Regions from separate parts of the Homo sapiens genome. Here region 2 is linked to region 1. Evidence: fine-mapped expression QTL. A gene starts in region 1. The other region holds a variant in brackets. All regions are shown on one strand. Distances are from middle to middle.

Region 1 (15,321 bases):
CCACAACCTTTACCAACGACCTTGGAAATATCTTTTCCATGCCTAGCACAGTGTCAGGCACACAGAAGGCCCAAGCATGTTATTGAATGTCCCACACTTTTTACCTCCATGGTAAGAAACATACCGACTAAACATAGTGAGGAACAGATTACTTTTAGGCACTGAACTACAATTGCTGATTATCCTTTGCCTACCCACATCTCCTTCTAAGGGATTCTTCTTTGCCCATAGATCTTTCTGCTCTAAACAGGCCCTCATCCCCCTCCATAAAACATAATTTCATGCATCAAAGTTGAGTTTCTGTCCCAGGCCAGTGCTTCAGTTGCCTACTGGACAACTTCCTGCTGGTATGGTCACTTGAAAGAAGGAGCTCAGCCAATCAGCTCTCTTCTAAGAAGGGGTTTGGGAAACACAGAGGCTGGGTCAGTTAACAGAGGAAATGAGCTGAAAGGTCACATGCGGGGAGGTAGGCTCAGGGCTGGGGCAGCCATCAGGGACTACAGCTGAAGTCAGCAGCTAGATATTGGTGAAGAGGAGAATGAAGTTGATGCCGAGAAACATTCTGTAAACCAAAAATAAAATTCTAAGCCCCACAACTGGCTGAATGGGACCACGCGGATTCCAAAGAAACCTGAAAAACTAGTTCAGACCACAGGAAGGAGAGTCAGACATGCTTTATTATACCCTCCTCCCTTTAGAATTTAGACACAATTGACCAACATTAAAACAGATCTTAAGACCGACCAAATGAACTCTTTCTTTAACAATAAGATACCAAAATCCAACCTGACTCTAGTATAGCATCACATGACCAATAAAGAAGGAAATCAAAATATTTTACCCCAAAATATGTTTCTTTCCCATATTTTGAAATGACTATTTGCATCTGTAAAGAATCTCAATTAATGTAACTAGGTATTTGCCCTTCCAGGCCCTCTCAACCCCAAAGAGATTAACTAAATCTGGCACCATTTAAGGTCTGAAAAGAGATATTTATTATCCATTATCTCTTAAGCCTGCTACCTGGAGGCTTCATCTATAACAAGAACCTTGGCTTCCACAACCCCCCTTATCTTAACCCCAAGTATTTCTTTCTGCTGACTTCAACTTTAGGGAAAGCTTAACTCTTTTAACTAATTGCCAATCAGGAAATCTTTTAACTCTACCTACGACCTGAAAGCCAACCCAGTGTGTACCTCACACGTATAGATTGATGTCTTCTATCTCCCTAAAATGTATAAAACCAATCTGTTACCCAACTACCTTGGGCAAATGTTCTCAGGACCTCTTGAGGCCGTGTCATGGGTCATGGTACTCACATTTGGCTCAGAATAAATCTCTTCAAATATTTTATAGAGTATGGATTTTCTTGTCAACAAGAACCATGATGAGTGAGACTCTGCAGCTCCTAAGAGACAGGGAAAATAGTGGACTTGACCTTTTTTGAAAGGCCAGTTTCTGTTTTGGTTTTGGAGAATACTTACTATATTACACAAGGAGGTGTTTGGGTCATGGGTGTGGATCCCTCATGGCTTGGTGCTCTTAGGGATAGTGAGTTCTCACATGATCTGGTCATTTAAAGTGTGTGGCACCTCCCCCCAACCCACTCTCTCTCTCACTCCTGCTCCTGCCATGTGAGATTCCTGCTCCCTCTTTGCCTTCTGCCATGAGTGTAAGCCTCCTGAGGCCTCCCCAGAAGCAGAGGCTGGCGCTGTGCTTCCTGTGCAGCCTACAGAACTGTGAGCCAATTAAACCTCTTTTCTTTATAAATTATCCAGCCTCAGGCATTTCTTTATAGTAATGCAACAGTGGACTAAAGCCCCCTCCCCCGTCACACTCTTTCCCATTTCTCTAAAGAAACTTGAAACATTTCCCTAAAGAAACTCTGTACCTTGGAAGTAAGGTGGGAGAAGCTCTGTGCTGCACCTAAAGGAGATTACTGCCAGCAGCCTTCACAAAGACTCAGAATGAGTCTGTAGCTGCCCTCAGGTTGGCCCAAGACTCCACTAGCACCGGGTCTCCCCACAGCTGCTCATGGTTTCCACTCTGGTCCTGTACAGCATAGGACACATAATCCCACACCACAGGGCAAGCCCAAGGCAGATGTCCTGCATATGTTTGGGCAAATCTAGTCCTCAAGTTGCTAGTAAATAGATTGGGTGAAAGAAAAATATCTGAAGAGCCTCCATAAATTTTTTTTTTTTTTTTTTGAGACGGAGTCTCATTCTGTCGCCCAGGCTGGAGTGCAGTGGTGCCATCTTGGCTCTCTGCAACCTCCACCTCCTGGGTTCAAATGATTCTCCTGCCTCAGCCTCCTGAGTAGTTGGGATTACAGGCACCCGCCACCATGTCTGGCTAATTTTTGTATTTTTAGTAGAGTTGGGGTTTTGCCATGTTGGCCAGGCTGCTCTCAAACTCCTGACTTCAGGTGATCTGCCTGCCTTGACCTCCCAGAGTGCTAGGATCACAGGCATGAGCCACCACGCCCGGTCTAAAGTTCATTCTATTTTTTTTTTTTTTTTTTTTTAGATGGGAGTCTTGCTCTGCCACCAAGGCTGGAGTACAGTGGCACAATCTTGGCTCACTGCAACCTCCGCCTCCCAGGTTCAAATGATTCTCCTGCCTCAGCCTCCCAAGTAGCTGGCATTATAGGTGCACGTCACCACGCCCAGCTAATTTTTGTATTTTTACTAAAGACAGGGTTTCACCATGTTGGTCAGGCTGGTCTCAAACTCCTGACCTCAGGTGATCCACTCACCTTGGCCTCCCAAAGTGCTGGGATTACAGGCGTGAGCCACCACGCCCGGCCTAAAGTTCATACTTGAGGGCTTTCCTACAACAGCATAATATTTAGAAATTAGATGGCATTAGAAGGCTGTATTTCAGCTATATGATCGGCTATATATATAGTTACTGGGAAAATTGTCAGTACCAAAATGGAGTCACCTATATCAAATCCTAACAAAATAGAGTCAAGAGGCCTGGCGCGGTGGCTCACGCCTGTAATCCCAGCACTTTGGGAGGCTGAGGCAGGTGGATCACGAGGTCAGGAGATCGAGACCATCCTGGCTAACACGATGAAACCCCGTCTCTACTAAAAATACAAAAAATTAGCCAGGCATGCTGGCGGGCACCTGTAGTCCCAGCTACTTGGGAGGCTGAGGCAGGAGAATGGTGTGAACCTGGGAGGCGGCTTGCAGTGAGCTGAGATCGCACCACTGCACTCCAGCCTGGGCGAAAGAGCAAGACTCCGTCTCAAAAAAACAAACAAACAACCAAAAAACAAAATAGAGTCAACAGGCCAAGAAAATAGAGTCAAAAGGCCCTCACACATATATACCCTATAACAGGAACTGTGACAAAAGACTTTTCCAACTGAACTTTCCTGTTAAGCCACTTCTATGAAGACCCTTTCGTAGCCATAGCCAGTACCACCAATGAACAAACGTCACCACCTGCAATAAGTCCCTGTAACCAATAGTATTTGTTTCAAAACAGTTTATGTGGACTTCTCCTTTTTGCCTTTAAAATCTTGCCCTTGCCCAAACCCCTCAGATGCACCTGGGGTTTGCCACAGCACACATATCCTGAATCGCAATCCCTTGCTATTCCTGAATAAACTCTTTGTTTTGGGGAGTTGGTCACTCTGTAGCTCATTTTAGGTTGACTGACTCTCTGTCTCTGTCTCTGTCTCTCTCTCTCTCTCTCTCTCTCTCTCTCTCTCTCTCTCTATATATATATATATATATATATATATATGTATATTCATATATATAGTATATATGTGCGTATGTATATAGAGAGAGATATATAGTTTGTGTATATATCTATACACACACACACACACACACACACACACACACACACACATACACATAGCTATATGGACTATCTATGTGACCTTAAATAAATCAGTTAATTATTCTGATCCACAGTTTCTCCACTTGTAAAGGAAGAATTCTGATCTTTGTTCAGTTTACCTCAGGGCTATTATGAAATGAAATGAGATAACCAATGTGAAAGTCCTATAAACTGTATAGCCTCCATTCGGATGTATGTCTTTGGCAGGATGATAAAGAATCAGGAAGAAGGAGTATCCACGTTAGCCAAGTGTCCAGGCTGTGTCTGCTCTTATTTTAGTGACAGATGTTGCTCCTGACAGAAGCTATTCTTCAGGAAACATCACATCCAATATGGTAAATCCATCAAACAGGAGCTAAGAAACAGGAATGAGATGGGCACTTGCCCAAGGAAAAATGCCAGGAGAGCAAATAATGATGAAAAATAAACTTTTCCCTTTGTTTTTAATTTCAGGAAAAAATGATGAGGACCAAAATCAATGAATAAGGAAAACAGCTCAGAAAAAAGATGTTTCCAAATTGGTAATTAAGTATTTGTTCCTTGGGAAGAGACCTCCATGTGAGCTTGATGGGAAAATGGGAAAAACGTCAAAAGCATGATCTGATCAGATCCCAAAGTGGATTATTATTTTAAAAACCAGATGGCATCACTCTGGGGAGGCAAGTTCAGGAAGGTCATGTTAGCAAAGGACATAACAATAACAGCAAAATCAAAATTCCGCAAATGCAGGAGGAAAATGGGGACTGGGAAAGCTTTCATAACAGTGATTAGGCAGTTGACCATGTTCGCAACACCTCCCCGTCTATACCAGGGAACACAAAAATTGACTGGGCTAAGCCTGGACTTTCAAGGGAAATATGAAAAACTGAGAGCAAAACAAAAGACATGGTTAAAAGGCAACCAGAACATTGTGAGCCTTCAAAGCAGCAGTGCCCCTCAGCAGGGACCCTGAGGCATTTGCCTTTAGGAAGGCCAGTTTTCTTAAGGAATCTTAAGAAACTCTTGAAAGATCATGAATTTTAACCATTTTAAGTATAAAACAAATATGCGATGCATAATCAGTTTAGACATGGGTCCCAATTTTATAAAGTCAGGCATACAAGGATAACGTGTCCCAGCTCCGGATAGGTCAGAAATCATTAGAAATCACTGTGTCCCCATCCTAACTTTTTCAGAATGATCTGTCATAGCCCTCACACACAGGCCCGATGTGTCTGACCTACAACCACATCTACAACCCAAGTGCCTCAACCATTGTTAACGTGTCATCTCAGTAGGTCCCATTACAAATGCCACCTCCCCTGTGCAGCCCATCCCGCTCCACAGGAAGTCTCCCCACTCTAGACTTCTGCATCACGATGTTACAGCCAGAAGCTCCGTGAGGGTGAGGGTCTGTGTCTTACACCTACCTGTATGCTCTACACCTGAGCTCACTGCAACCTCTGCCTCCCAGGTTCAAGCAATTCTCCTGTCTCAGCCTCCCGCGTAGCTGGGACTACAGGCGCACGCCCGGCTAATTTTTGTATTGTTAGTAGAGATGGGGTTTCACCATATTAGCCCGGCTGGTCTTGAACTCCTGACCTCAGGTGATCCACCCACCTCAGCCTCCTAAAGTGCTGGGATTACAGGCATGAGTCACCGCGCCCGGCCAAGGGTCAGTGTTTAATAAGGAATAACTTGAATGGTTTACTAAACCAACAGGGAAACAGACAAAAGCTGTGATAATTTCAGGGATTCTTGGGATGGGGAATGGTGCCATGAGCTGCCTGCCTAGTCCCAGACCACTGGTCCTCATCACTTTCTTCCCTCATCCTCATTTTCAGGCTAAGTTACCATTTTATTCACCATGCTTTTGTGGTAAGCCTCCACATCGTTACTGAAATAAGAGTATACATAAACTAGTTCCATTTGGGGCCATCTGTGTGTGTGTATAGGGGAGGAGGGCATACCCCAGAGACTCCTTGAAGCCCCCGGCAGAGGTTTCCTCTCCAGCTGGGGGAGCCCTGCAAGCACCCGGGGTCCTGGGTGTCCTGAGCAACCTGCCAGCCCGTGCCACTGGTTGTTTTGTTATCACTCTCTAGGGACCTGTTGCTTTCTATTTCTGTGTGACTCGTTCATTCATCCAGGCATTCATTGACAATTTATTGAGTACTTATATCTGCCAGACACCAGAGACAAAATGGTGAGCAAAGCAGTCACTGCCCTACCTTCGTGGAGGTGACAGTTTCTCATGGAAGACGTGCAGAAGAAAATTAATAGCCAGCCAACTTAAACCCAGTGCTGAAAGAAAGGAAATAAACACCATCTTGAAGAATTGTGCGCAGCATCCCTTAACAAGGCCACCTCCCTAGCGCCCCCTGCTGCCTCCATCGTGCCCGGAGGCCCCCAAGCCCGAGTCTTCCAAGCCTCCTCCTCCATCAGTCACAGCGCTGCAGCTGGCCTGCCTCGCTTCCCGTGAATCGTCCTGGTGCATCTGAGCTGGAGACTCCTTGGCTCCAGGCTCCAGAAAGGAAATGGAGAGGGAAACTAGTCTAACGGAGAATCTGGAGGGGACAGTGTTTCCTCAGAGGGAAAGGGGCCTCCACGTCCAGGAGAATTCCAGGAGGTGGGGACTGCAGGGAGTGGGGACGCTGGGGCTGAGCGGGTGCTGAAAGGCAGGAAGGTGAAAAGGGCAAGGCTGAAGCTGCCCAGATGTTCAGTGTTGTTCACGGGGCTGGGAGTTTTCCGTTGCTTCCTGTGAGCCTTTTTATCTTTTCTCTGCTTGGAGGAGAAGAAGTCTATTTCATGAAGGGATGCAGTTTCATAAAGTCAGCTGTTAAAATTCCAGGGTGTGCATGGGTTTTCCTTCACGAAGGCCTTTATTTAATGGGAATATAGGAAGCGAGCTCATTTCCTAGGCCGTTAATTCACGGAAGAAGTGACTGGAGTCTTTTCTTTCATGTCTTCTGGGCAACTACTCAGCCCTGTGGTGGACTTGGCTTATGCAAGACGGTCGAAAACCTTGGAATCAGGAGACTCGGTTTTCTTTCTGGTTCTGCCATTGGTTGGCTGTGCGACCGTGGGCAAGTGTCTCTCCTTCCCTGGGCCATAGTCTTCTCTGCTATAAAGACCCTTGCAGCTCTCGTGTTCTGTGAACACTTCCCTGTGATTCTCTGTGAGGGGGGATGTTGAGAGGGGAAGGAGGCAGAGCTGGAGCAGCTGAGCCACAGGGGAGGTGGAGGGGGACAGGAAGGCAGGCAGAAGCTGGGTGCTCCATCAGTCCTCACTGATCACGTCAGACTCCAGGACCGAGAGCCACAATGCTTCAGGAAAGCTCAATGAACCCAACAGCCACATTTTCCTTCCCTAAGCATAGACAATGGCATTTGCCAATAACCAAAAAGAATGCAGAGACTAACTGGTGGTAGCTTTTGCCTGGCATTCAAAAACTGGGCCAGAGCAAGTGGAAAATGCCAGAGATTGTTAAACTTTTCACCCTGACCAGCACCCCACGCAGCTCAGCAGTGACTGCTGACAGCACGGAGTGACCTGCAGCGCAGGGGAGGAGAAGAAAAAGAGAGGGATAGTGTATGAGCAAGAAAGACAGATTCATTCAAGGGCAGTGGGAATTGACCACAGGGATTATAGTCCACGTGATCCTGGGTTCTAGGAGGCAGGGCTATATTGTGGGGGGAAAAAATCAGTTCAAGGGAAGTCGGGAGACCTGATTTCTAATACTATATTTTTCCTTTACAAGCTGAGTAATTCTGAGCAAGTCACAAGGTAGTAACTGAGGCTGTAAGATTACTTAGTTTCTCCTTATTAGGAACTCTTTTTCTCTGTGGAGTTAGCAGCACAAGGGCAATCCCGTTTCTTTTAACAGGAAGAAAACATTCCTAAGAGTAAAGCCAAACAGATTCAAGCCTAGGTCTTGCTGACTATATGATTGGTTTTTTGAAAAATCATTTCAGCGATGTTTACTATCTGATTCAGAAAATGAGACTAGTACCCTTTGGTCAGCTGTAAACAAACACCCATTTGTAAATGTCTCAAGTTCAGGCTTAACTGCAGAACCAATCAAATAAGAATAGAATCTTTAGAGCAAACTGTGTTTCTCCACTCTGGAGGTGAGTCTGCCAGGGCAGTTTGGAAATATTTACTTCACAAGTATTGACACTGTTGTTGGTATTAACAACATAAAGTTGCTCAAAGGCAATCATTATTTCAAGTGGCTTAAAGTTACTTCTGACAGTTTTGGTATATTTATTGGCTATTGCCATTTGCTTTTTGTTTTTTCTCTTTGGGTTTATTAATGTAAAGCAGGGATTATTAACCTACAGTCCAGAAAGCCTGTGAATTTGAATGAGGAAAAAATTACATTTTTGTTTTTACCACCTTCTAACTAAATTTAACATTTTATTCCATTGCGAATAGAGCCATAAACTCAAAGTGGTAATAACAGTACCTGTGATTTTGTCATTACCAATAGAAATCACAGACATTTTATACTATATTACAGTTGTTGCAGATACGTTGTAAGTGAAATATTTATACTCAAAACTACTTTGAAATTAGACCTCCTGCTGGATCTTGTTTTTAACATATTAATAAAACATGTTTAAAATTTTGATATTTTGATAATCATATTTCATTATCATTTGTTTCCTTTGTAATCTATATTTTATATATTTGAAAACATCTTTCTGAGAAGAGTTCCCCAGATTTCACCAATGAGGTTCTTGGCATGCACACACACAGAGTAAGAACTGATTTAGAGGCTAACATTGACATTGGTGCCTGAGATGCAAGACTGAAATTAGAAAGTTCTCCCAAAGATACACAGTTGTTTTAAAGCTAGGGGTGAGGGGGGAAATCTGCCGCTTCTATAGGAATGCTCTCCCTGGAGCCTGGTAGGGTGCTGTCCTTGTGTTCTGGCTGGCTGTTATTTTTCTCTGTCCCTGCTACGTCTTAAAGGACTTGTTTGGATCTCCAGTTCCTAGCATAGTGCCTGGCACAGTGCAGGTTCTCAATGAGTTTGCAGAGTGAATGGAAATATAAACTAGAAATATATCCTTGTTGAAATCAGCACACCAGTAGTCCTGGTGTAAGTGTGTGTACGTGTGTGTGTGTGTGTGTGTGTGTGTAAAACCAGGTGGAGATATAGGAACTATTATTGGGGTATGGGTGCATAAATTGGGATGTTCTTTTTAAAAAGAAACTCCAAACAGACTTCTGGAAGGTTATTTTCTAAGAATCTTGCTGGCAGCGTGAAGGCAACCCCCCTGTGCACAGCCCCACCCAGCCTCACGTGGCCACCTCTGTCTTCCCCCATGAAGGGCTGGCTCCCCAGTATATATAAACCTCTCTGGAGCTCGGGCATGAGCCAGCAAGGCCACCCATCCAGGCACCTCTCAGCACAGCAGAGCTTTCCAGAGGAAGCCTCACCAAGCCTCTGCAATGAGGTTCTTCTGTGCACGTTGCTGCAGCTTTGGGCCTGAGATGCCAGCTGTCCAGCTGCTGCTTCTGGCCTGCCTGGTGTGGGATGTGGGGGCCAGGACAGCTCAGCTCAGGAAGGCCAATGACCAGAGTGGCCGATGCCAGTATACCTTCAGTGTGGCCAGTCCCAATGAATCCAGCTGCCCAGAGCAGAGCCAGGCCATGTCAGTCATCCATAACTTACAGAGAGACAGCAGCACCCAACGCTTAGACCTGGAGGCCACCAAAGCTCGACTCAGCTCCCTGGAGAGCCTCCTCCACCAATTGACCTTGGACCAGGCTGCCAGGCCCCAGGAGACCCAGGAGGGGCTGCAGAGGGAGCTGGGCACCCTGAGGCGGGAGCGGGACCAGCTGGAAACCCAAACCAGAGAGTTGGAGACTGCCTACAGCAACCTCCTCCGAGACAAGTCAGTTCTGGAGGAAGAGAAGAAGCGACTAAGGCAAGAAAATGAGAATCTGGCCAGGAGGTTGGAAAGCAGCAGCCAGGAGGTAGCAAGGCTGAGAAGGGGCCAGTGTCCCCAGACCCGAGACACTGCTCGGGCTGTGCCACCAGGCTCCAGAGAAGGTAAGAATGCAGAGTGGGGGGACTCTGAGTTCAGCAGGTGATATGGCTCGTAGTGACCTGCTACAGGCGCTCCAGGCCTCCCTGCCTGCCCTTTCTCCTAGAGACTGCACAGCTAGCACAAGACAGATGAATTAAGGAAAGCACAGCGATCACCTTCAAGTATTACTAGTAATTTAGCTCCTGAGAGCTTCATTTAGATTAGTGGTTCAGAGTTCTTGTGCCCCTCCATGTCAGTTTTCACAGTCCATAGCAAAAGGAGAAATAAAAGGACCGGGTGAGATGTGTCTGCATATGAGCAGTAGAAAGTTGTCAATTGTCCCTTTTGAAAAACTATCCTTTTTTGAACCTTTGCTCAGATTGTTATTTGTACCTTTTGATGTTAAAATGACCTTTATTTATGAAATTACAATAGATTTGGGAAATGATAATAAGTGGTAAGTTTTTGTTTATTTTTAAATGTTCTTCCCTGGCAAAATAAAGAGATGGCACCTCTCTGTCAGTTTTCTTAATATGTTGTTCTGAAAGTTTTCTTACTCAGTCCAATCTGAGAACCTCTGCTTTTAAGTCATCAGACAAATTCTTGAGATGGCTTTTTCTGAGAGGCTCTTCTGTTCATCCTGGTCCCTTCTTGCCTAAAGGTGAGTCTGTGTGTGTGTGGGGGGGGTGCGGGGGTGAGGTGTTGGGGGAGGTCTTCTTATTAGCTGGGAAGATGGTATTTGTGTCACTTTTTGTGAAAGTGGGCTCCCAAATATTCCCTGTTGAGGAAGTGTTCTAATCATGAGGAAATAAGCAAGCAAATCCAGTTGTTGGACAATTAGTTTGGACTGGTCAAAGATGTCAGTGCCAAGGAAGAAAGAAAAAAGGGGTGGGGAAGGGCTTGTTCTATATTAAAGAGACTAAAGAAATGTGTTAACCAAATGTAGTGCATGAGTCTTGATTGGTGTCTTCATCCAAGGGGGAAAAAGGCTATGAGGAACAGGTTTGGGATAACTGAGGCAATTTGACTGCTCATTATTATGTTACTGTATTAATGTTCAGTTTCTTGGTGAGATAATGATACTGTGGTTGCGAAGGATAAAATCTTTGTTCTATGGAGATACATGCTTAAGTACCCAGGGTGAGGCGTCAGGATGTCTGCAATTTGCTCTCAAATGGTTGAAGAAAGACTGCAAATATATAGATAATGAGAGAAAGAAAGGTAAAACAACTGTGGCAAAATATTAATAACTGGTGAATTACAAACTGGTGAATCTAAGTATATGGGGAGCTTATTGTACTATTCTTTCAGTTTTTCTATAGGCTTGAAAAGCTTTAAAATTATGAGAAAATATTTCCTAAAAAGAGCCTTCTACGTGAAAGGCAAGCTCTTCATAGCTATGGGGTTAGAAAACCTAAGAGCCAGAGCCTGGGGATGACCTTGGGCAAGTTATTGAACCCTCTGCATCTTCATTTCTTGTCCATAACATAACAAAGAAAATTCCTGCTGTGAATAATTTTTGTGGGGTTCACATGAAATACCTATAAGATGTAAAGGATTTTTAAAAAATGTTTAGATTGTTAGAATTAGAAGAGATCCAATTCTGAATTTTACAACCAAGGAAAGTGAAGTCCTAAGATGCTAAGGGGCCAAGGTTGCCCAGCTGGTCAGTGGTAGAGCTTGAGACTTGAATCTGTGGAGACAATTGAAAGAATCATCATTACCAGAAGTGTGATGAGGCATTACTTATTTCAGACTGTTGAATGAAGTTACATTCTCAATAAAAACTCCTGCATGTGTGTATGTGGGTGTGGGTGGTGTGTGTGTGTGTGTACAAAAATAGTGGCAATGTTTTGCCTTTTTTTTTCTTTTGTGGTCATTTAACAAGTCTTTGGGGATTTATTAGATGTGTTTCCTAATTTTATATTTTTTCTTGATCTTTCCAGCTACTCCACTTTTGAAATAAGGGCAACATCCCATTATATTGAACACCAAACATGGAAGTTCTTTTCTAGTAGTAGATGTTTTTCATGAGCAGGAAATTACATTAGTACAAGAATGTGGAACTGGAAAGGGACCTAATGAGCATCCGGTACCGCTGGCTGATTTTTGCAGATATGGAAACTGAGGCCCAGAGAGGTTATTCAGCTTGTCCATGGCCATCTACCAGTTAGTGGCAAAGCTCGAATTCTGGCCTCTTCCTCTGAAGTTCAGTGACTTTCTTTCTTTTTTTTTGAGACAGAGTTTCACTCTTGTTGCCCAGGCTAGAGTGTAATGGCACGATCTTGGCTCACTGAAACCTCTGCCTCCCGGGTTCAAGCAATTCTCCTACCTCAGCCTCCTGAGTAGCTGGGATTATAGGCATGTGCCACCATGCCCGGCTAATTTTGTATTTTTAGTAGAGACAGGGTTTCACCATGTTGGTCAGGCTAGTCTCGAACTCCTGACCTCAGGTGATCTGCCGACCTCGGCCTTCCAAAGCACTGGGATTACAGGTGTGAGCCCTCCCTGTACATGGCCATGAGGTTCATTGACTTTCAAGACCTTCAGCTGACCTCTGGTTTATAGACCCTAAAGGTAAAAGACAGAAAGGTACAGGAATGCTTGGAACAAAAGATCTGTTTCAAGGCCAGATCTAGGGAAAAGGGGGCATTCTGGAGGCTGGAATATAAGTCTAGGTATGCTTTTTTGCAGGAGTGGCAAGAACTAGGTGTGAAGGTTTGGGTAGAGAAGCTTAGTGAGGCTGAGTGGACAAAGGTAAGGCCTGAGAAGGCAGCCTTTCTGTATTCCACCTGCAACTCAAATTGTTACCACCACTTTCTTGATCATGTATTAATAGTTGTTATGTAGAAAAAAATTCCTTATAATCATAGAAATCACTTGTTTATACATACACATAATATGACATATTTTACTACATAACTATTACTACAAAGTTATATATAACTTTTTCTTCTCTGGGCTTATATAAATTTTCATATATATACATATATAAATTTTATGTATATATAATAGTTTTTGAAAAGTAGAAAAAAAATACAATTAGCCAAGTGTGGTGGCTCACACCTGTAACCTTAGCACTTTGGGAGGCCGAGGTGGACAGATCACTTGAGGTCAGGAGTTTAAGACCAGCCTGGCCACTGTGGTGAAAACTTGTCTCTACTAAAAATACAAAAATTAGCCGGGTGTGGTGGCGGGCACCTGTAATCCAGTTACTCCAGAGGCTGAGGCAGGAGAATCGCTTGAACCTGGGAGGCAGACGTTGCAGTGAGCCAAGATCACGCTACTGCACTCCAGCCTGGGTGACAGAGCGAGACTCCATCTCAAAAAAATATATATATTACATATAATACATATAAATATATATAATTATATATATAAATTTATTATATATATAATAAAATACATATATAATTTACTAGAAGATAAATTAGAGTTGGTTATTACTGTCACAAGAGAAGGACTGCTTTGTTTGTTATTTAGCCCCTGCTTTGGACTGGTCTCCTGTTGAACAGAGCCTGGAAGAGGGCTTGTGTGCAGTTGGTTTATATGGACCATGATCCTAGAGAAGAGAAGTTGAGACAGGGGAAAGTGAGACAGGGAAGGCAGGAAAGCCACAAAATGGGGGCCTTCTCCAGCTAGTCACCACAGTGGGCAATGGAGGCTCAATCCCATCAAGCCCTTCAGAGGGGCTGTGTAGACTGCAACAGAAGAGGGGAGGTTTACGCATGGATCTGATACCCTCTTGGCCAAGGGCTATCCCATGGAGTATATTGCGCTTCCCTGATACTCAGATGTGGGGACGAGGTTTGTTCTTGCAGACTGATTTTTTTTTTTTTTTTAAGATGGAGTCTTTCTCTGTCCCCCAGGCTGGAGTGCGGTGGCACGATCTTGGCTCACTGCAACCTCCGCCTCCTGGGTTCAAGCAATTCTCCTGCCTCAGCCTCCCGAGTAGCTGGGATTACAGGTGCACACTACCACGCCCAGCTAACTTTTGTATTTTTTTTTTTTTCCAGTACAGACAGGGTTTCACCATGTTGGCCAGGCTGGTCTTGAACTCCTGACCTCAAGTATCCACCCATCTTGACCTCCCAAAGTGCTGGGATTACAGGCATGAGCCACGGCGCCTGGCCTGTTCTTGTAGACTTTCTATGCAGAAAGTCAGAGAAGCTGGGCCACGGTGGCTGAGGCGAGGTCCCCGCAGGTGATAACTGCAAGAGGCAGGTTGCCTCAGCAATGACTGCAAAAAAGTGGGCAGGATGTGAGGGGAGGGTGAGGGGAGAAACCTGAGGTGTTCAACACAAGTGCTGCAGATTCCCTTTCCTCACCTAGAATAGGATGGGGATGAGAATCCCTCATGGGAGTCATCATGCAAATTAGCAGTCACACAGGGAAGCACCCAGTGCAGCGCTGAGCAGTGGCCACCCAGTGAATAAAATATAACTAGAAAGGCTTATTTTACTTGAGTTCCACTATTGTTTTTGTTTTTTGTTTTGTTTTGTTTTTTGAAGATGGAGTCTCGCTCTATCACCAGGCTGGAGTGCAGTGGCGTGGTCTTGGCTCACTGCAACCTCCACCTCCTGGATTCAAGCAATTCTCCTGCCTCAGCCTCCCAAGTAGCTGGGATTACAGGCACACGCCACCATGCCCGGCTAATTTTTGTATTTTTAGTGGAGATGGGGTTTCACCATGTTGGCCAGGCTGGTCTTGAACTCCCGACCTCGTGATCCACCCGCCTCAGCCTCCCAAAGTGCTGGGATTACAGGCATGAGCCACTGCACCTGGCCAGGGTTCCACTATTGTTTTAAAGCATCATTCAATAATCAATATGTCAACATGTGCATAACATTTTAATAACATGCGTTGATTCTAGAGACAGTACAAGTTAGAGCAGTACTCAGGACAATAGTCTATTAGCTAGTCTTCACTTTCCTAAGATGTTTCTGACAACCTGTAGATAATTAGGCATAGCTTGTTTTACTTCATTCCTTTCATTTATGTAATATGGACTGAACTTTCCAGTGATAGAAAATATCTATGAAAATTATTACAATGCCTATGTCTACAGGCAAACGAGTTAATAAATTCAGTTTCCGGGTTGAGGTCTCTAAAATGCCAAGTCTATAAAGAAGCGACGGCAGAGAACACAGAACATTTCCAGAATTTTGTAATAGACATGAACCTTTAAACCACAGAAGGACTGAATTTAACATTTTAAAAAACCTAGAAAAAAAACAGCTGGGCGTGGTGGCTCACGCCTGTAATCCCAGCACTTTGGGAGGCTGAGGCAGGCGGATCACGAGGTCAGGAGTTCGTGACCAGCCTGGCCAATATGGTAAAACCCTGTCTCTACTAAAAATACAAAAATTAGCCAGGCGTGGTGGCAGGCACCTGTAGTCCCAGCTACTCAGGAGGCTGAGGCAGAAGAATCACTTGAACCCAG
Region 2 (15,321 bases), 26 kb after region 1:
TCCCATTCAAGAACCGCTATAAGTACAGCAGCATGATTGACTACAACCCCCTGGAGAAGAAGCTCTTTGCCTGGGACAACTTGAACATGGTCACTTATGACATCAAGCTCTCCAAGATGTGAAAAGCCTCCAAGCTGTACAGGCAATGGCAGAAGGAGATGCTCAGGGCTCCTGGGGGGAGCAGGCTGAAGGGAGAGCCAGCCAGCCAGGGCCCAGGCAGCTTTGACTGCTTTCCAAGTTTTCATTAATCCAGAAGGATGAACATGGTCACCATCTAACTATTCAGGAATTGTAGTCTGAGGGCGTAGACAATTTCATATAATAAATATCCTTTATCTTCTGTCAGCATTTATGGGATGTTTAATGACATAGTTCAAGTTTTCTTGTGATTTGGGGCAAAAGCTGTAAGGCATAATAGTTTCTTCCTGAAAACCATTGCTCTTGCATGTTACATGGTTACCACAAGCCACAATAAAAAGCATAACTTCTAAAGGAAGCAGAATAGCTCCTCTGGCCAGCATCGAATATAAGTAAGATGCATTTACTACAGTTGGCTTCTAATGCTTCAGATAGAATACAGTTGGGTCTCACATAACCCTTTACATTGTGAAATAAAATTTTCTTACCCAACGTTCTCTTCCTTGAACTTTGTGGGAATCTTTGCTTAAGAGAAGGATATAGATTCCAACCATCAGGTAATTCCTTCAGGTTGGGAGATGTGATTGCAGGATGTTAAAGGTGGTGTGTGTGTGTGTGTGTGTGTGTGTAACTGAGAGGCTTGTGCCTGGTTTTGAGGTGCTGCCCAGGATGACGCCAAGCAAATAGCAGCATCCACACTTTCCCACCTCCATCTCCTGGTGCTCTCGGCACTACCGGAGCAATCTTTCCATCTCTCCCCTGAACCCACCCTCTATTCACCCTAACTCCACTTCAGTTTGCTTTTGATTTTTTTTTTTTTTTTTTTTTTTTTTTGAGATGGAGTCTCGCTCTGTCACCCAGGCTGGAGTGCAGTGGCACGATCTCGGCTCACTGCAAGTTCCGCCTCCCAGGTTCACACCATTCTCCTGCCTCAGCCTCCCAAGTAGCTGGGACTACAGGCGCCTGCCACCACGCCTGGCTAATTTTTTTTTTTTCCAGTGAAGATGGGGTTTCACCATGTTAGCCAGGATGGTCTCGATCTCCTGACCTTGTCATCCACCCACCTTGGCCTCCCAAAGTGCTGGGATTACAGGCGTGAGCCACCACGCCCAGCCCCTCCACTTCAGTTTTTATCTGTCATCAGGGGTATGAATTTTATAAGCCACAACCTCAGGTGGAGAAAGCTTATAGCATAGTTTTGTTCTTCCAACTCTTAAAACTGCAGTAAAATATAACAAAATTTACCATCCCAGGATTTATAAAGGCACAGTTCAGTAGTGTTAAACACATTCATATTATTGGGCAACCATCACGACCATCATCTCCAGAACATTAATAACTCAAGTTATTAATGTACCAGGGGAAAAGAAAAGTCAGGGCTAGTGCGGTGACTTTACGGTTATTAATACACCCATTAATAACTCCATTATCCTCAGCCCTTATAGCAATATTATTATTTTCTAAATTTTTTTGTAGAGACAGGATTGTACTATGTTGACCAACTTGTCTCAAACTCCTGGCCTCAAGTAATCCTCCCATCTCGGCCTCCAGAGTGCTGGGATTACAGGCATGAGCCACCACACCTAGCTGCATTATTTTTTAATAACAAACTTAATTTCCCTCTTCAGTTGCCATTGTACCTAATGGTAGAACACTTCATTTGCCAGTTCAGCTTGGATTCCATCACATCAATGTGTTGTCAGCCAATTCAGGCTTTTCCTCTCCCCATGTCTTTGAGGTGGCATCTATGCTTGAGACAAGTGAGATTGAGGGCGCACTGGCACTCAGGGGGAAGAACCCAGGCAGAGTGTCTCACACCTGATTTTAGCCATCAGGCAGATTCCAGCTTTGCTGCTGGCATCCACATCTCTGTATCCAGTTACAGATTTGGGGTCCTCTGAGTTCCAATGGCCAGACCCATGAGGCAGCCTTTTTTTTTTTGAGGAGTCTCACTTTGTCACCCAGGCTAGAGTGCAGTGGCATGATCTCAGCTTGTGGCAACCTCTGCCTCCCGGGTTCAAGCGATTCTCCTGCCTCAGCCTCTTGAGTAGCTGGGATTACAGGCACCTACCACCACGCCCTGCTAATTTTTGTATTTTTACTAGAGACAGGGGTTTCACCATGGTGGTCAGGCTGGTCTCAAACTCCTGACCTCATGATCCACCTTCCTCAGCCTCCCAAAGTGCTGGGATTACAGGCGTGAGCCACCATGCCTGGCCAAGGCAGCTTTTTTCCAGCCTGTTGTGTGTACCACCAAGGATATGAGGACACAGTGGGAGCTGTCCTGCAGGGTAGGAACACAGGTTCCCTTTTGCTCTCCTGCTGTGCCCCTGCTGGGTCAGGGCCACTTCTCCTAGAAGTCTGCCACCCCATAGGCTTCACCTGGAAATGAGCACAAGTCTCCTCTGCTTTCTCTTGCCCCAACCTATCTGGTACATGAAGTCCTATCAGGAAACCTCCAGAATCTAAGTTTTTTCTCTCTCTTTTTTTTCTGAGGCAGAGTCTTGCTTTGTCACCCAGGCTGGAGTGCAGTGGTGCTATCTCGGCTCACTGCAACCTCTGCCTCCTGGGTTCAAACGATTCTCCTGCCTCAGCCTCCCGAGTAGCTGGGATTACAGGCGCCCACCACCAGGCCTGGCTAATTTCTAAGCTCTCTTTCTCTCTCTGAAGTTCCCTTATTCTTCCAGACTTTATTCAGACTGTAGAGATGGAATACTCTTCACCTATCTTCTCAGGTTGTTGTTCATGGGACCAGAGCTCAGCCTTTTGATTTCCAAGAGAATCAGCTCTTAAAAGTCAAAGCCTTGGCTTTAAGACAATTCTTCCTATCCTGAGTTCTAAAGACTATACTTTGGAAAGCAAAGCGAAAAATCTGACTTTTTTTTTTTTTTTTTTTGAGACAGAGTCTCACTCTGTCACCCAGGCTGGAGTGCAGTGGTGCTATCTCGGCTCACTGCAACCTCCGCCTCCGGGGTTCAATTGATTCTCCTGCCTCAGCCTCCCATGTAGCTGGGATTACAGGAATGTGCCACCATGCCTAACTAATTTTCGTATTTTTGGCAGAGACAGGGGTTTCACCATGTTGGCCAGGCTGGTCTCAAACTCCTGACCTCAGGTAATCTGCTGGCCTCAGCAGCCCAAAGTGCTGGGATTGCAGGCGTGAGCCACCATACCAAGCCTGACTTTTCTTTTCCCCTGGGAGTTTATTCTCATTAAGATTACACATGCCATGAGTGAGAAGGGAGAGGATGAGATCTCAAAATGGCTCTCCACTGGTGTATTAATATACTTGAACTCCCATAACAAATACCACTGACAGAGTGGCTTTGTGAACCCCAAAGAGCTGAGACAAGTCTCAGTTAATTTAGAAAGTTTATTTTGCCAAGGTTGAGGGCACCGTGACAGAGCCTCAGGAGGTCCTAATGACATGTGTCCAAGGTGGTTGGGGCACAGCTTGGTTTTATACATTTTAGGGAGACATGAGACACCAATCAATATATGTAAGATGTACATTGGTTCTGTCCAAAAGGTGGGACAACTCAAGTAGGGAGGGGGCTTCCAGGTCACGGGTAGGTGAGAGACAAACAGTTGCATTCTTCTGAGTTTCTGATTAGCCTCTCCAAAAGAGACAATCAGATATGCATTTATCTCGGTGAGCAGAGGGGTGACTTTGAATAGAATGGGAGGCAGGTTTACCCTAAGTAGTTTCCAGCTTGACTTTTCCCTTTAGCTTAGTGATTTTGGGACCCCAAGATTTATTTTCCTTTCATAGCTTAAACAACAGAAATTAATTTTCTTACAATTCTGGAGGCTGGAAGTCCAAGATCAAGGTGTCAGCAGGGTTGGTTCTCCTGAGGCCTCTCTCCTTGGCTTATAGATGGATGGCTGTTCTCTACATCTTCACATTATCTTCCCTCTGTACATGTCTGTGTCCCGATCTCCTCTTTTTCACCCTAATGACCTAAGCTTAGCTTAATCACCTCTTTGAAGGCCTTATCTCCAAAGACAGTTACATTCTAAAGTATTAGGATTAGGGCTAGGTGTGGTGGCTCATACCTGTAGTCCCAGTACTTTGGGGGGCCAAGGCAGGAGGATCACTTGAGGTCAGGGGTTCAAGACCAGCCTGGCAACGTAGTGAAACCCCGTCTCTACTAAAAATATAAAAATTAGCCGGGTGTGGTAGTGCACACCTGTAATCCCAGCTACTTGACAGGCTGAGGCAGGAGAATCGCTTGAACCTGGGAGGCGAAGGCTGCAGTGAGCCGAGATCATGCCACCACACTCCAGCCTGGGCAACAGAGCAAGACTCTGTCTAAAAAAACTAAAAGTTAAAAACAAAGTATTAGGATTAGGACTTTCAGATATGAATTTGGGGGTGGGGACACCATTCAGCCCATAACATCTGGGTGTCAACCACTCTCCCCCACTGACAGCTGACTCTTAAAAACTGAAAAGCCCAGAAATCGGAATGCATGAGCTCATTCATCCTACTAAGCACCTCTACCTGCCAGGTGTTTGAATGAAAAGTGGAAGGTGGAAAGTAACTGAGATGCTGAGATGAGCCAATCCTGTTTGTGCAGCCCTCCCCATGGCTCCTGTTCTTTCTCTCCATAACCTGCTGCATCAGGCTTTGGGATGGAAGAAGAGGGTGGAGGAAGAAGAAACAAAGGGAAGAAAAACTTTTCCTTCATGAAGCTTTCAGAATGTTAGACTCCTCCTCCATCTTTGACTGTTCCTTCTTTGTTTCTTTTGCTGGTTCCGCCCTTTAATCCCGACCTCTTTTTACTTTTTATTTTTTTTGAGATGAAGTCTCGCTCTTGTTGCCCGGACTGGAATGCGATGGCATGATCTCAGCTCACTGCAACCTCTGCCTCCCAGTTTCAACCGATTCTCCTGCCTCAGCCTCCCGAGTAGCTGGGATTACAGGCGCCTGCCACCATGCCCAGCTAATTTTTGTATTTTTAGTAGAGACGGAGTTTCACCAGGTTGGTCAGGCTAGTCTTGAACTCCTGACCTCAGGCAATCCACCTGCCTCAGCCTCCCAAAGTGCTGAGATTACAGGCTAGCTCCCTCTTAAGATTGAAGCACCCCAGGGCTCAGTTTAGGGTCTCTTCTTATCTACTTACTCCTTTGGGCATCTCATCTAATATCAGGGCTTTAAATTCCAACTCACATATGCTAATGAACCTCATGTTTATATCTCCAACCTAGTCATTACTCCTGAACTCCAGATTCATATATCACCTGCCCCCTTGGCATCTCCATTTAGATGTCTATTAGGCATGTCAAACTAGCAGGTTGAACATCTGACCTTCTCTTTCTTCATCAGACACACCAAATCTGCTCTTTTATTTTTATTTTTTTTGAGACAAGGTCTCACTCTATCACCCAGGCTGGAGGGCAGTGGCAAATTACAGCTCACTGTAGCCTCAAACTCCTGGGCTCAAGCAAGAAGCAGCTTGAACCTCCCAAGTAGGTGGGACTACAGGTTTGAGCCACTGTGCTTGGTTTTTTTTTGTTTTTGTTTTTTGTAGAGACAGGGTCTCCCTATGTTGATGAGGCTGGTCTCAAACTCCTGGCCTCAAACAATCCTCCTGCCTCAGCCTCCACAAGCATGAACCATTGCACCCAGGTAAATCTGCTCTTCTTTTGGCTGAGGAAACTCAATCCCTCTAGTTGCTTGGGCCAAAAATCTTAGAGTTATCCTTTACCCGCCTGTCTATCATACCCCATATCCAATGCATCAGCAGCTTTTGTAGGTTTCATCTTCAAACACGTAGATCCAGAATCTTCCCATATTTCTCATCACTACAACTGTAATCGGTCTAAATGACTATCGTCTTGTTCCTGGATTACTACAATAGCAGATGACCTGCTTCTGTTCCCTCTACCCATGCAGCCTACTCTCAACACTGTAGCCAGAACAATCCCATTAAAACACAAGCCAGATCATGCCTCTTTTTCTGAAAACCTCTATGGCTTCTGCTTCCCATCTCATTCAAAGTCAAAGTCAGAGTTCTTACAAAACCCCACATCGTCGGCCTCCTTCCTCCACCACTGTGCCTTCATCCCACAAATGTCCCTGATCCACTCTACTCAAGCTTCCTCGCTCTCCTTGAATGCACCAGGCACACTTCTACCTTTGAACCTTTGCACTAGTTCTTCCCTCTGTCCCAAATGTCCACACACCTAACTTCATCACTGGCTTCAAGTCTTTGCTCAAATGCCACCTTCCTAAAGAGGTCCTACAGACCTGGAGTCAAAGGAGATCATTTTGGAGCTTTAAAATTTGAACTGCCCAGCTGGATTTCAGACTTGCATGGGCCCTGTAACCCCTTTGTTTTGGCCAGTTTCTCTTATTTGGAATGGCTGTATTTACAAAATACCTGTACCCTCCTGTATCCAGGAAGTAACTAGCTTGCTTTTGATTTTACAGACTCATAGGTGGAAGGGACTTGCCTTGTCTCAGATGAGACTTTGGACCATGGACTTTTAGGTTAATGCTGAAATGAGTTAAGACTTTGGGGGACTGCTGGGAAGGCATTATTAATTTTGAAATGTGAGGACATGAGATTTTGAGGGGCCAGGGATGGAACGATATGTTTTGGTTGTGTCCTCACCCAAATCTCAACTTGAATTATATTCCCATAATTCCCACATATTGTGGGAGGAACCTGGTGAGAGATAATTTGAATCACGGGGACAGCTTCCCTCATACTGTTCTCATGGTAGTGAATAAGTCTCATGAGATCTGATGGTTTTATTAGGGGTTTCTGCTTTTGCAT[C/T]TTCCTCATTTTCTCTTGCTGCCACCATGTAAGAGGTGCCTTTTACACTCCGCCATGATTCTGAGGACTCCCCTCAGAATCATGTAGAACTGTAAGTCCAATGAAACCTCTTATTCTTCCCAGTCTCGGGTATGCCTTTATCAGTGGCATTAAAATGGAGTCATACACCTACCCAGACCACCCTGTTTAACACTACAACCAACCTGCACTTCTAATCTCCCTTACCCTGTTTCACTGCTTTAACACATCTTTTCCATTATACTCATCGCCTCCTGATGTATAATTCACTGTTTTTTCATTGTGTATTTGTTTTGTTTTTGAGAGAGGGTCTCACTCTGTCACCCAGGCTGAAGTGCAGTGGCATAATCTCAGCTTATGGCAACCTCCACCTCCCAGGCTCAAGTGATCCTTGCACCTCAGCCTCCCAAGTAGCTGGGACTACAGGAGCCCACCACCACGCCCAGCTAAATTTTTTTTGTATGTTTTTGTAGATATGAGGTTGCTACATTGTCCAGGCTGGTCTCAAACTCCTGAGCTGAAGTGATCTGCCCACCTTGGCCTCCCATAGCACTGGGACTAGAGGGGTGAGCCACTGCACCTGGACTTACATTGTGTATGTTTTTTGTTAGTCTTTCCCCATTGGAATGTAAACTCCATGGGGTAGGGATTGATTGTTTTGTACAGTGATATATCCCTAGAACAGTGCCGTGCTTACATAGTGGGTACTCAACATTTGCTGAACAAAGGAACAGAGAGAACATCCTAGAATGTGTTCAGAAACCAAATGGAAGTAAAACACAAGAATTATTCTTTCCCAGCCTGACCTCTCTTTGATTCTATTTCTAACTGGCGGTGTGTCCTTGGACATGTTTAACCTCTGCCCCATCACTGTTTAATGGAATTTATTTATTTTTTTTTTTTTGAGATGGAGTCTCACTCTGTTGCCTAGGCTGAAGCACAGGGTGCAATCTCAGTTCACCACAACTTCCGCCTCCCGAGTTCAAGCGATTCTCCTGCCTCAGCCTCCCAAGTAGCTAGGATCACAGGTGTACACCACCACACCCAGCTAATTTTTATATTTTTAGTAGAGACAGCGTTTCTCCATGTTGGCCAGGCTGGTCTCAAACTCCTGACCTCAGGTGATCCACCCACCTCTGCCTCCCAGAGTGCTGGGATTACAGGGGTGAGCCACCATGCCCGGCCTCATAGAATTATCTTTAATGGCAGTCACATTCTACAACTGCAACATCCCATAGGGTAGCCACTGGCTGCACAAATCTACTAAGCACTTGAAATATGACTAGCATGACTGAAGAACTGAATTTATTTCATTTTTAATGAATTTAAATTGAAATAGTCACAAGTGGCCAGTGGTTGTCCTATTGGACAGCGCAGGCCCATTCTTCACCAGACTGAGGAGAGGGAGATGTGTATGTCCAGCATCCAGCTGGCAATGGCAGACACTCAGTGCAGGCTCCTTCCCTGCCCCATGCTGCTGAAGGCCACAGGTAAGGAGTCCGACTTCCACACCAATGGCACAGCCAACTACTATGGGGGTAGAAGAACCGGAGCACTTTTTACTTTTAAAGAAGGAACATTGGTTTTATTAAATGCATGGGATCAGGGGAGATCACAGAGTGTTTACCCTGACTCCACAATGGTGTACAGAAGCTTTGACTCCTTTCTCATAGGGGAGCCGAGCACATTTACAAGGGCAGGCCTGGAGACAGAACACCTACAAGGACTCTAAGAAGCAGCAGACGAAATAAAGGATGACATGTGGGGATATTTTTTATATGTATATGTATGCCAGAATTATCACATTTTTGATGCCTTCGAACAATTCAGAAGAGCCCCGGAAGTCCTTAGAGGTGCACTGGGGCCCGTCAAGGAGCTTGGAGAGGACTCAAGCAATGGACTTCTCCACAACAGAACCACTCTACACTTGGCTGCTTTTCAGGGTAGAGTTTTCTGTTACAGAGTTTGAAAATCACTTCAAATCTCCCAGAAACAAACTTTAAAAACACTGTCAATAAATGTGAAACTCAACCACCTTAGCCCCAGCACACGGCATGGGAATGCAGCTCCAAAATATAGGGCCACACAACTGTAGTGTCTCAGGTTGCGTTTTGAAAATCCAGCTACCTCAGGGTTCCCAGGACCTGAGATCTTTAAACTCTAGACTTTAAAAGGCCTAGACTTTTCACTGATTCAGATTTAGTAATAAACAACAAGGCCTGATAACTGTTTATTAATTTAAATACAACTGACTACAGCAACAGTTCTATAGCATAACATAAAGATCAAAATATATGCATATCATATCAGAGACTTGGATTAAAAAACCAAAAATGACTAAGTCTATTAGCAAGGGTAAACCATGCTCTATGGTGGTTCTAGGTGAAGAAAAATAGGAAAGAACAAAGATCTTCAAGAGTCTTCTAAGACAAACCTCAAGAATGCCACTGAAACTGTTTTCTGGAGTTCTGTGTAAGAATTCACTTCAAAATAAGTTTTACATCTTAGGAGACCGTGGGATCCTCAGCTGGAGAAGGAGGTGGGGCAGGAGGTACTGTGAGGTAGGTCCTGTGAGGGGGAGGGGCTTGCTCCAAATCCAAGTGGGAGAGCATCTCCTTAGCTTCATCACTTTTCTGGGTAATTATCTCTTTTCTAGGAAGAAAGGCACATTGAATGCCATTTGAATAAAGATAGGGTTTTAAATAAACAGAGGAAAAGGAAACAGACTGGGCATGGTGGTTCATGCCTGTAATCCCAGCACTTTGGGAGGCTGAGGTGGAAGGATCACTTGAGCCCAGGAGTTCAAGACCAGCCTGGACAACATAGGGAGACCCCCTTTCCACAAGAAAATAAAAATTAGCCAGGCATGGTAGCATGCACCTGTGGTCCCAGCTACTTGGGAGGCCAAGGTGGGAGGATCACTTGAGCCTGGGAGATCGAGGCTACAGTGAGCTATGATTGCACCACTGCACGCTAGCTTGGGTGACAGAGTGAGACCCTGTCTCAAAACAACAAAAAAGAAGGAACAAAAGAAATACCCCAGATGCCAGCATCTAAAAAGAATAGTTAACATTTCAGAGGACATCTTTCCAAGCTCCTCCACCCATACTCACCTTGCAGAAATGAGATATACTTTAATTGTCAGTCAGCTCTCCTCAGAGTGAGCTCAGCTGTCCCCGTTGGTGCCATGGACCCAACAGAGTTAGAGTCTGCACCCTCACTCCTCCATCCCCATCCTCCAAGGGTATCTTAGGATTAGAGCAGTAGTTCTTCCCATCAATTAGCTTTCTCCATCCCCTACTGGCCAGCTCTCTGTACATTTCAGCCTGGGACAGGCTGTGTCTAAACGTTTCATTTGCATTCCAGCTATTCACAGGGCCAGTCCAGCCTCAGTTTCACTTCACAGCTCCCTTTGGCCTAACTTGCCCCCATCCCCAGGCTGTGGGGTTCGCCTCCCCTTCTGCTGGAGTATACCAGAGTCTCCCCATCCTCCTCAGGGCTGGGCAAACCTTGCCTTCAAGGGCATAGGACTAGCCTGTCAAGCTTTTACAGGTTCAGATTTAATTGTTCCCTGAACATTTACTATGTTCCAGGGACTAGAAATTACCTAGAAACTAACCACATGTAGAATCTCAGCCCCCACATTAAATCTTTCAGCTGAGCAAGCTGAGACAGAAGGTGATTACCCAGATCATGTGACCAGTAGAAGGCAGAACTGGAATCCAAATTTAAATTTCAATCTGGCCACAAGTTCACTGCTCCCATCTCCCAATCAAAGCTGATCCCTAATGTTGCTGAGAGGATGTGGGATGATGGGAAGGGAATTGTTTGGTGGCTAGGACAGGCCACAGAATTATGCCATCTCGTCCTTGGATGGACATTAGAGCACAGGGACCACACTTCCTGCAGACAATGCCCACTCTCACGGTCTAAACCCGTGGTATCAAATTGGCTGTGCACCACTATCAACAAAGATTTGACATTCCCATATATGGTAACTAAGAAATGGCACCTAATTCCTATCAATTTGCTGGAATCTTACATCCCAATAAACTCTAAGGTCAAAGGGCATTGTAAACAACATTAGATGGAAGTCTGTATTTTCTATTTCAAATCAATAATTTTGATTTTTTTGACCAACTTCTTATCAGATTTAGTAAGATTATTATTTTTAATCTCATAACATACCCGACAAAGAGCTCAAGCTAGAGGTGTCATCTTGGGCCAGGCACAGTGGCTCTCATCTGTAATCCCAGCACCTTGGGATGCTGAGGCAGGTGGACCACTTGAGCCCAGGAGTTTGAGACCAGCCTGGGCAACATGGCAAAACCCTGTTTCTATTAAAAATACAAAAAAACTGGCCGGGCACAGTCGCTCACGCCTGTAATCCCAGCACTTTGGGAGGCCGAGGCGGGCAGATCACAAGGTCAGGAGATTTAGACCATCCTGTGAATGGTGAAACCCCGTCTCTACTAAAAAAAAACACACACACACACAAAATATTAGCCGGGCGTCGTGGCGGGCGCCTGTGGTCCCAGCTACTCAGAAGGCTGAGGTGGGAGAATGCCGTGAACCCGGGAGGCGGAGCTTGCAGTGAGCCAAGATTGCTCCAGCCTGGGCGACAGAGAGAGACTCCGTCTCAATATAATAATAATAATAATAATAATAATTAACCAGACGTGGTGGCACATGGCTGTAGTCCCAGCTACTTGGGAGGCTGAGGTGGGAGGATTGCTTAAGCCCCAGGAGCTTGAGGCTGAGGCTACAGTGAGCTGTGATTGCACCACTGAACTCCAGCCCAGGTGACAGAGCGAGACCCTGTCTCAAAAAAACAAAACCAAACCAAACAAAGTGATCCCCACTCCCCACTCTCTATCAAGAGCCACGACCACCCACGCAGTGAACATACACAAATGGGTGTCATCACCCCTTGAAGGGCCATGTGGGAAAAGTCTGTTTTCCACAATGGATGACAAAGCAGTTTCCTTTTCTGTGAAATGTGTCTTGCAGCAGCATTAAATACATTTAAATAAACCAGTGCCAGCTACAGTTTCAGGCACTTGCTGGGGCTCAGTGTTATGCTCCGTCCCAACCCCACAAGCGATCCAGAGGAAAGATTTTGGGTACCTTGTGATCATGGTGACTCGGCGCCTGGTTACCTCGGAGGTCAAGTCCTTGTAGGGGAGATTAATGCTGTTGTTTGCAAGGCTTTTCTGAGCCATGGCCTTGCACTCAGGGGATTTGAGGAATTTAAAGTTACTGCACCTGTGAATGCAAAACACAAGAGCTGGCACACATGCTTCAGGGGTCAGGAATGCTCCAGCTAGGTCCAGAATGGCGCAGTTTGCAGAGAACATTCACTGCCTTACTCTCAGTTGGTCCTCCCTACAGCCTGGCCTTCATCCCCCTTCCCCCCAAGGTCAAGAGGCAGATATTTCCTCAAATACCTATTATGAGGAGTGGGCGGCTAAGAGTAAAGTACTTGTTGGTTGTTTATATAGAACAAATGTGATTATTCCAATCATGCAGTGGGCAGCTATCATTACCCCCAGATAACACTGAGGGAATGGAGGCACAGATAGGTGAACTGAATCTCCCCAGGTTGCACGGCAGCCCTGTCTCATGCTGGTTCCTCTCTAATGGCGCCATTCCAGAGGAGCCCTTTTCTCACAGGGCTGTTTGACCTCACTGACATGTGCAAAGCTTTCTTCCTGGAACACTTACCCCTTAAAGAACAGGAAAGGGACATAAATAAGGCTGCAGCTGGGAGCCATGCTACTTGTCCAGATATGCACATGGCATAGAGACTGGAGGGTTGATTTTGATAACAGAGATAGCGGCCACCCATTTACTGCCGGTCACCTTGGGATGTCCTTTTACTTTGTTGCCCCCCACCCCCTTTTCTTTTTGAAACAGGGTCTGGCTCTGTCACCAAGGCTGGAGTGTAGCAGAGCTGTCTCGGTTCACTGCAGTCTCAGCCTCCCAAGTAGCTGAGACTACAGGTGCATGCCACCATGCCCAGCTAATTTTTGTATTTTTTGTAGAGATGGGGTTTCACCATGTTGCTCAGGTTGGTCTCAAACTCATGAGCTCAAGAAATCTGCCCTCCTTGGCCTTCCAAAGTGCTGGGATTGCAGGCATGAGCCACCATGCCTGGCCCTTTTGCTTCATCTTATTTGATAACCACCGTAAACCCACATGGTAAGTATTATGATCCTCATTCAACGAATGGGGAAACTGAGCAGTAGAGAAATTAGGTAGCTTTTCAGGAGTCACAGAGCTAGAATTTGAAGCTAGGTCTGTTTGACTTCAAAGACTATATTATCTCCATTACAGAGCCAAGTCATCTCCCAAGAAACAGAAGAGGAATTAGAGTAATTCCCATTCCTAGACACCAGGTCACACTCACGTGGTGACTGCCATTCTAGAGCATGAGTTGCAACAGCCAGAGCTCGCCAGCTTGATCTTTTGGCTGGAAAGGTTTGTTCTTATAAGGATGCCCAACTGACTTACCTTTTAGTCCCAGGTCAGCTTAGCATATAACTGCTTTTACGCACCAACTCATGGATTTGCTAAGAAATATCCTTATGACATACTCTGTACCCACATACCAGCTACTTCATCTCTTTGAAAAGAGAAAAGGCGAAAAAAGGACCACCAACGTCAACTTCCTCCCCTTTAGTCTTTTAACCTCCTGTAGTCAGTCTCTCTCAGGAACTTGGGTTAATAAGATTGATTTGCGCCCTTAGAAAGCAGCAGCTGAAACAAATTACCCCTGGAGCCGTGTCCTTGAGAAATCTCCACAGATGTCGCAGGGAGAGGATGGGTCTTGGGGGCAGAGCAGGGGAAGAGCTTTCTGTCATGTGAGCAATGGGGAAGCGCTATCTCAGATGCTAGTAAACACATTGTGACCTAGTCTCTTTATTGACTACTTTTTAAAAAGCTAATTCACGTACGCCCCTCCTCCCAGTGCCATCAATAATCACTGATCCCACCTCTTCCTGATAATTCACAGCACTTCTTCTATGCTGGCAGGTGTTTCAGCTCTGAAATTAAAGGAGTTGATTGTGCAACTCCCACTTTTGATCTGAGTGATCTCGGGCAAGTAATTTAACCTCTAGAAGCCTTGGTTTTCTTACTTGTAAAAGAGGAGTAATAGTATCTTCTAGGGCAGTTGTGAGGGTTGAGAAAATGTTTGCAAACAATCCTTAATTTTGCCTTTCTTGCATTTTTTTAATTTTTAAAATGTATTATTACTATTGTAATTATTGAGACAGGGTCTCACTCTGTCACCCAGGCTGAAGTGCAGTGGTGAGATCATAGCTCACTGCTGCCTTGAACTCCTGGCCTCAAGTGATCCTCCCACCAGGCTGAGGCCAGGAATTCAAGGCGGCAGTCTATTTCTTTACATGATAATAAAACCACAACAGAGGCCAGGCGCGGTGGCTCATGCCTGCAATCCCAACACTTTAGGAGGCCGAGGCGGGCGGATCACGAGGTCAGGAGATTGAGACCATCCTGGCTAACACGGCGAAACCCCGTCTCTACTAAAAATACAAAAAATTAGCCAGGCGTGGTGGCGGGTGCCTGTAGTCCCAGCTACTCAGGAGGCTGAGGCAGGAGAATGGCGTGAACCCGGGAGGCGGAGCTTGCAGTGAGCCGAGATCGCGCCACTGCACTCTAGCCTGGTTGACAGAGTGAGACTACGTCTCAAAAAAAAAAAAAAAAAAACCCACCATAGAAGAAATTTGCTGCTTGGGAAGATAAGGTGTAATGAAGCTGGGATTAAAAACAAGGTCTACACAAGGTCTATATATACGTAGATAAATACAGCTATTTCCCTTTGTCAACGAAAACAGTCAAACTCTGTAAAATATTTGAAGAGATTCTGAACCAAATATGAGTGACCATGACCTGTGACAAAGCCCTCAGGAGGTCCTGAGAACACGTGCCCAAGTTGGTCGGGGTGCAGCTTGGTTTTATACATTTTAGAGAGGCATGAGACATCAGTCAAATACATTTAAGAAATACATTGGTAGGCCGGGCACGGTGGCTCGTGCCTGTAATCCCAGCACTTTGGGAGGCCGAGGCGGGCAGATCACGAGGTCAGGAGATCGAGACCATCCTGGCCAACAAGGTGAAACCCCGTCTCTACTAAAAATACAAAAATTAGCCCGGCGTGGTGGCACTCGCCTGTAATCCCAGCTACTCGGGAGGCTGAGGCAGGAGAATCGCTTGAACCCGGGAGTCAGAGGTTGCAGTGAGCCAAGATCGCCACTGCACTCCAGCTTGGCAACAGAACGAGACTCCGTCTCAAAAAAAAAAAAAAAAAGAAAGAAAAAGAAAGAAATACATTGGTTTGCCCAGAAAGACAGGACAA

What was found.
Region 2: its variant is fine-mapped to the expression of MYOC in lung (TOPMed, PIP 0.93).

The regions. Positions count from the first base shown.
Region 1 is chr1:171,646,588-171,661,908 of GRCh38, reverse strand. It overlaps MYOC (myocilin), which reads left to right and starts at 9,221. Exons shown (of 3, transcript NM_000261.2): 1 at 9,221-9,901. The coding sequence starts at 9,298.
Region 2 is chr1:171,620,726-171,636,046 of GRCh38, reverse strand. It overlaps MYOCOS (myocilin opposite strand), which reads right to left and starts at 13,804. Exons shown (of 3, transcript NM_001391940.1): 1 at 13,715-13,804; 2 at 12,069-12,206; 3 at 9,159-9,593. The coding sequence starts at 12,163. The coding sequence ends at 9,446. MYOC (myocilin) reads left to right here. Exons shown (of 3, transcript NM_000261.2): 3 at 1-630. The coding sequence ends at 122. RefSeq lists a silencer at 14,612-14,812. The variant C/T (reference allele first, on the strand shown) is at 6,924.